2 linked regions of the Homo sapiens genome follow. The protein of the gene in region 1 interacts with the protein of each later gene in a pairwise test. Each region holds a gene or a part of one and is shown in the gene's direction. Other genes may lie near its edges. The genes, in order: SLC10A2 and TMEM222.

The links.
Region 2: the proteins of SLC10A2 (region 1) and TMEM222 interact in binary tests that used the Homo sapiens proteins (3 or more experiments, as listed by UniProt).

What each region holds. Positions count from the first base shown.
Region 1 is NC_000013.11:103,046,338-103,049,619, reverse strand, and holds part of SLC10A2 (ileal sodium/bile acid cotransporter), read left to right. Parts: intron 1-173; coding exon 174-331; intron 332-3,282. UniProt on the Homo sapiens protein: Plays a critical role in the sodium-dependent reabsorption of bile acids from the lumen of the small intestine. Transports various bile acids, unconjugated or conjugated, such as cholate and taurocholate.
Region 2 is NC_000001.11:27,328,369-27,332,190, forward strand, and holds part of TMEM222 (transmembrane protein 222), read left to right. Parts: intron 1-2,346; exon of another isoform or gene 2,347-2,351; coding exon 2,352-2,436; intron 2,437-2,616; exon of another isoform or gene 2,617-2,769; intron 2,770-2,872; exon of another isoform or gene 2,873-3,701; coding exon 3,702-3,733; intron 3,734-3,822.

The sequences.
Region 1 (3,282 bases):
AATAAGTATTACACTTATTCCATAGAAAGTTATATATTGAATAAGCCTATCTTAAATACATGCATTAAAAGCAGAGACATAATGCATATATATGTACTTATTATTATATCTGCTTTTCATGTTTCACAATAACAAAACTACTAAAACATGTGCTCTCTTAACATCTTCTTTAGGTGCCGAACGGTTGCTTTTGAAACGGGGATGCAGAACACGCAGCTATGTTCCACCATCGTTCAGCTCTCCTTCACTCCTGAGGAGCTCAATGTCGTATTCACCTTCCCGCTCATCTACAGCATTTTCCAGCTCGCCTTTGCCGCAATATTCTTAGGATGTAAGGAATCATGCCAATCCCATTTCATGATAATCTTTGAAAAATCCTGGAGTTGCTAAAACAACATTTTTTTAAAACTCCCCGTTCCTGGTGGTGAATTGTACAAATATATGAGAGGAAAAAGCCACCGTCATATTATCATGACTTTCCAATTGCTGATGAAAAGATGGTAGTTTTACCAAAAGATTCTAGCAAAGATTATTTTTGAGTGAAAAGTAATGGAGGCCGATTCTCTCCAATGACTTTCTTTTCCTCAGTAATAAGGAAGGCAGAGGAACCTGTTGGGACCATTTTATTGTGCGCCTTCTGGCATTCGCCCAGGAACTCAGGATTTGGTGATCTTTTTCAAAACATTGTCTTGATATGCTTTATAAATATAGGATATTTATCAGAAAACTGGTATACAAAGAAAATTTACCAGGCTAACTTACAAGGAAGATGTGTGTGTGCATATGTGTATATGCATGTATATATATATTTTAAATACCCATATAATTGAAGTGGTTGAAGCAAAAATGTTCCTTATGTAAAGTACTAGGTGTAGTTTAAGTAATTCTTACTTCTCCTGTCCTGTGGCATGAAGCTCCCAGCGTTTCCCATCAGGCCCCACCGCCCACTGGCCTTCACCTAGTTGAAAATTCTTTCTACATTTTCCTTTCCAAGGGCTGATAATATTTAACCTCTATTTTTACATTCTATTTTTTTTAATAAAAAAGCTAGTTTTTAAAGCCTCATGACATTGTAATGAGGAATATAAAGTGAAGGCACGCAACAAAACTAATGTAAATGTTAGGTCACAAAATGTCCAGAGATATAGTTTGGTTTTGTTTGGTTTTGCTTTTCTCTCTCTCTCTCTTTTCTTTTTTTCTTTTCTTTTCTTTTTTTTTCTTTTTTTTTTGAGACAGCCCCTCACTCTGTCGTCCAGGCAGGATTGCAGTGGTGTGATCTCTGCTCACTGCAAGCTCTGCCTCCTGGGTTCACGCCATTCTCCCACCTCAGCCTCCCAAGTAGCTGGGACTACAGGTGCCCGCCACCATGACAGGCTAATTTTGTTTTTGTATTTTTAGTAGAGACGGGGTTCCGAGGCGGGCAGATCATGAGGTCAGGAGATCGAGACCATCCTGGCTAACACGGTGAAACCCCATCTCTACTAAAAATATGGTTTTGCTTTACTTTTCTGCTTAGCTTCATCAGCTCTTCAACTTGCCCTGTGATGCTGATCTCCTCTGCACTACTGTCTTGAATGTCATTCTCAAAGCAGAGGCTTCCTTTCCAGAACAGAATACTCTGAATCCACTGAAAACATTCCATGGATTTATCACTGCTCCAGGAAGCAGGAGTCCAGGCCTAATTACCTTGTTTTCTGTATAATAACGTTGTTTGATCTGCCCAATTTGGCACACAGTGGGATTTTTCCAAATAATTACTTAATGATGTCTACTAGATAAGCCAGAGAAAGTGGACTGGTTGATAGAACAATTAAGTAATGCACTAGTTGAACACTAACCCCAAAGAGGTTGATTAATAAAAAATTAAGTTGAAGGAATGAGGAAAAGGGAGCACTCAACTCGGTCTTGAAATTTCCCAGTTACATCAGTATGTATAAAAATAAGGGAGGAATCTTTGTTAAGTGTATACAATACCTGGAAACATATTTTGGTGGTAAGGCTAGGATTCTAAATTTTTTTTTGGAAAAAGGAGAGGAGGGGAAGAAAGAAAAAGGGAAAAAAGGAAGGATGGGGGAGGGAGAGAGGGAGGGAGGGAGGGAGGAAGGCAGGGAGAGAAGGGAGGGAAAGAAAAAGGGATAAACAAGAGGTATAGTTTGGTTAAATGAAATCATTGGCATAAGTTTAAGCTGAGGGACTCTCAGCTCAAAACAGTTTATAATAAGTGGCGGATCTTCAAATTGACCACAAGCTCAATTAAATTCAATAGTGTGGTTCAGTGGCTTTGAAAATAATATATGACTAGAAGTTCAGGGACCAATCTAAAGGAAATATTGATCTTGAGTTAATAAGATCTTTGAAGCAAGTCATTATCTCTCTCAGCTGTGTATCATAATGAACGTTAACATTTATTGAGCATTTACTATTCTTCACAGACCATGTTAGGCATTTAATTTTATCTCATTTAATGTTCACAATTGCCCTATGAGGTAGCTAATATTATTATGGCCATTTTATATGTGAGGTATTAGAATTCGAGGGGTCCTATAAGGAGTATTTTCTGTCCTCCTCTTGCCTTTGTGACCAATTGAGAAGTAGAAGAAAAATCAGATATTCAGATAACAGAATAGCACTTTAACTATGGATAAAACTTAATTGGAAAACATGACTTGAATCTGCAACCAAATGGGCTTGTTGAAACCACCCTTTCCTCCACTGCCTCACACATGTGCAGACATGTACTCACACATGCATAGACACTGCAGGTCTTGCCTCGCAGGGCAGAGCCTACCCTGATGAGCTGACATTAAAAATAAGCTGAGAAATGCTTGCTATCAGAGACCAGCAGCTCCACAGAAAAGAGGAATGCTGATCACCCATCAGCCGAGTCTCTTCTCTCCGGGGGAAAGATTGAATGAAGGCAGGGAGGGAATGGGAACGTTGTTCTAGTTCAAGTCCTTCTACAGAGGACCATCAAACCCATGTCCTGGAGGTTGCACTGCACCATGTGTATATTTATTAAGAACTAGCACATTAACTGGGATATGGCGGTACAGAATAAATCCTCCCTATTGTTCTTATCATTGTTGAGTACCACGTGCAGGGCTGAATGCCTGAAGAAGCTTGTGGCTGCCCTGAGCAAATGTCTCCTAAAGATTTATGCTAGGTCTTCCTGAAGTGCAGTCATCCCTCTCGCCATGAGTAGCCATAGAACTAAGAATGGTGATTTCTTTCTCTAAGCAGCCTCCAGTCTACAGAAAATGTGATCTGCCATGTGAATCATAG
Region 2 (3,822 bases), on another chromosome or scaffold:
GTTGGAAGAAGTTCGAAGTGTATTATAAGTGTAGTAGGAAGCCATTAATAGGTGTTGAACAGGGGAATGATGGAATCTGAGTTCAATTCTCAAAAGACCACTCTGGCCCTACCATTGTCTCAAGCGCTCAAGCTGTAGACCTGGAAGACCCCCATCCTGTCAGTCGTAAACTCTCCAGTCTTCATTTGAAAGATCTTTTGAATCCATGTGTTTCTCACCACCCTGCCCCTGATCCTCTAGTCAGGACCTCCATCATCTCTTGCCAGTGGTACAGCAGTAGCCCCTGAGCTGGCCTCTCCCCCTTTCGTTCTTCCAGGCACATGTACCACTTTCTTGCTCTGCAGTGTTGTTTTCTGCCTGTTGATGTTGTGTCCTTTCACAGGTCAAGGTTAAAAGTCACCTCCTCTGTGAAGTCTTTACTGGCTCCACCCCAGCCCCCTGTAACTGCTTTTTTAAACTGCGTCTCTGGAGGCTTGGCCTGCACCCCTAGCCAGGTGCTTTATGCTCGTGCCCAGGCAGCATTGAGGCCAGGACTCGGCCACTGGCCCTGTGAGTTCTCCTTAAACTGGATCAGTCTCTCCAGCACCCAGGTCCTGTAGGGCCATGGTTCTCAGAACACAGACAGGTCTGGGGTTCCTATGTGTGACATATTGGGGTGCATCTGAGATTTATTGTTGTTTTTTAATGCCCATGGTTTATAAAAAAGGAACTTTTATTTCCTGGCATACACCATGCTTCTGTTCCAATTTCTACCCTTGCACATTCTGTTTCTTTGTTATTTCCTCAGGGAAGCCTTTCCTGAACTCCCCCACCCATACTGGTGTCATGACCGCCCACCTTTTTTTTTTTTTTTAACTTTCTTATTGAGGTATAACTTATGTACCAAACGGTGTGCGAATCTCAAGTATACAGCAGGAAGAATTTTTGCATATCACACACTCATGTAACCGCCACCCAGACGGGGGCTAGAAAGCAATGCTAAGACCCAGAGGACCCCCTTGTGCCCTCCCAGTCAGTTCTACCACAGATTCCACCCCGCTGTGGACCTCTAGCCATAGATCAGTCTTGCCTTTTCTTGGACTTCACGTAAACAGAGTGCTATGTTACGTACTCTGTGTAAGATTTCCTTCATTCACCCTTATGTCTGTGAAAGCCTGTGTTGTGTGTAGCAGAAGTGACACTGTTTTTCATTGTTATGGACTATTTCAATGTATAACTATACCACACTTATTCATCGTACTGTTGTTGAACATTTGGATTCTTTCTAGTTGTTTTTATCAATTTTATTGAATTATAGTTTACATATAATAAAATGTACACATTTTAAGAGTACAGTTCAATGAGTTTTGGCAAATGTTATTTCCCAGGGGTGAGGGCAAAGAAGGTTCCAAAAGTGAAACTGCTGAGGCATTTAGTATAGTGCCAAACTGTTTTCCAGAATGGTAGAAACAGGCCGGGTACGGTGGCTCACGCCTGTAATTCCAGCACTTTGGGAGGCCGAGGCAGGCAGATGACTTGAGGTCAGGAGTTCGAGACCAGCCTGGCCAACGTGATGAAACCTCATGTCTACTAAAAATACAAAAATTAGCCAGGCATGGTGGTGCACTCCTGTAGTCCCAGCTACTCGGGAGGCTGAGGCAGGAGAATTGCTTAAACCCAGGAGGCGGAGGTTGCAGTGAGCTGAGATTGTGCCACCGCACTTCAGCCAGGGCAAGAGAGCGAGACTCCATCTCAAAAACAAAATGGTAGGCCGGGTGCAGTGGCTTATGCCTGTAATCCCAGCACTTTGGGAGGCCAAGGCACGTGGATCACGAGGTCAAGAGATCGAGACCATCCTGGCCAACATGGTGAAACCCCATCTCTACTAAAAATACAAAAATTACCCAGGCGTGGTGGTGCACACCTGTAGTCCCAGCTACTCAGGAGGCTGAGGCAGGAGAATTGCTTGAACTCGGGAGGCGGAGGTTGCAGTGAGCCAATATTGTGCCACTGCACTCCAGCCTGGGCGACAGAGCGAGACTCCATTTGAAAAAAAAAAAAAGGTAGAAACAGTTTATCCCTCCCACCAGCAGTGAATGAGAGCTCTGGTTGTCCCTTGCCCTCACCTGCATTGGTGTTGCTGTCGTTTGAGTTACAGCCATCCTGGCGGGATGCTGAGGTATCCCATTGTGCTGTCGGTTTGCAGTTACCCTTGTCTGTGCTTCCCCAGCCTTCTGGACCACCCTAATGGCCACCTGTCAATGAAACGTAATATTCACATGCTTCTGTACTGTATGAAGGGTCCCCAGCGTCCGTCTAACTGGCTGAAAGATCCCCTAAGCTCTGTCCCTTCCCCGTCCTTTTCCTCACAGGTGGTTTTTCCCCATCATCGGCCACATGGGCATCTGCACATCCACAGGAGTCATTCGGGACTTCGCGGGCCCCTACTTTGTCTCAGTGAGTCCCCATTCTGCCCACCCGGGGGGTTCCAAGGTTTAAGTGGAAGGCTGTCCTGTCTTGCCTGCAGGCAGGCTTCGTCTCCCCAGACCCAGGAGAACGTAGATAACCCGCAGTCCTGGCCCTGGCCCTCTGCCCCTCACCAGTGTTTGACCCCTTTCCCCCTTCTCTTGCCTCCAGGACAGGCCGGGAGGGCAGTGTGGCCAGAAGGATTCTTAAGTAACTGACCCAGCCCTTTGCCCCCACCCCTGGGGTACCGAGACATGGGTAGGGATTAGAGGCAAGAGTGGAGAGTCAGACCATCCAGGAACCACATCTCTGGACCTTCAGAAGGTGGGAGTCAAGGTGGGGGGACACGGGAGGCTGATTCGGTTCCCTGGGTGTGGCCATGGAGAAGAGGGGGTGGGGCTTTAGAATGAAGCAGCTGTGTTCTCAGGTCTGTTCCCTGGGGCTGTGACCAAGACTGGTCCAGTGGGCTAGCAGCAGAGGAGCATGCATCATCCTGTCTCCAGGTGTCAGAGGCTGGACTGAAGGGGTGTGGTGGCACCAACCTGTTTATATTAATAGTTGTCATGATCATCTTAACACGACAAAGGTCTGTCACTTTGTACTTAAAAATACTTTCACATCCATTACTTTATCATATATTTTTATGGTGATTAATCATTGACCAGGTCTGTCAGCAGGGTCTCCCTGATCTGAACCCAGAGTCTGTCTCTGTGTAAGTCCTGTACCCCAGGAATAATGTGATGAGTCTAGGACTTCACTGCAGTGTCTCCCTCACAGGAAGTCCCTCTGGGCCCAGCGCCCCCGCCCTGCTATGAATGCAGTCAGACTGCTGGGCGAGGAGATGGTCTCCATGTGGGCCACCACTGTTGAGTCAGGAGGCCAGACCATGATGGAAACCTCCTGCTGGTCCTCAGAGATCAGAGAAGACTGACCAGAGAACTTGGAGAAAATGAGGCCCAGAGAGGGCAAGAGAATTCCTGGGTGCCACACCAAGGGACAGTGGCAGCTGGAGCCCCAGATCTTTGGTCTCTGATGCAGTGCTCTGTGCACTTGTGCCACACTGCCTTCTTCCTGCAGAACAGCTGCTAGCTCTTTAGATGCCATGCCAGCCCCAGGGCAGGGCCCAGGCCCCACTTCTGGCCCCCCCACCCCTGACATACCCTCTTCTAAGTCACTGCACTTCTGCCACCTACCCAGGTTTGTCATCTGGCCCAAATGTAAGTTCCTCACTGACCTCTGCTTTTGTCCCTCAACAGGAGGACAACATGGCCTTTGGAAAGCCTGCCAAGTAAGTGATGAACACCCATGTGACTGGCTCTAGAGGCAGGTCGCTCCTGCCGGGGCGGGCCAGGCCTTCTGGGGCACAGGAGGGGCCAG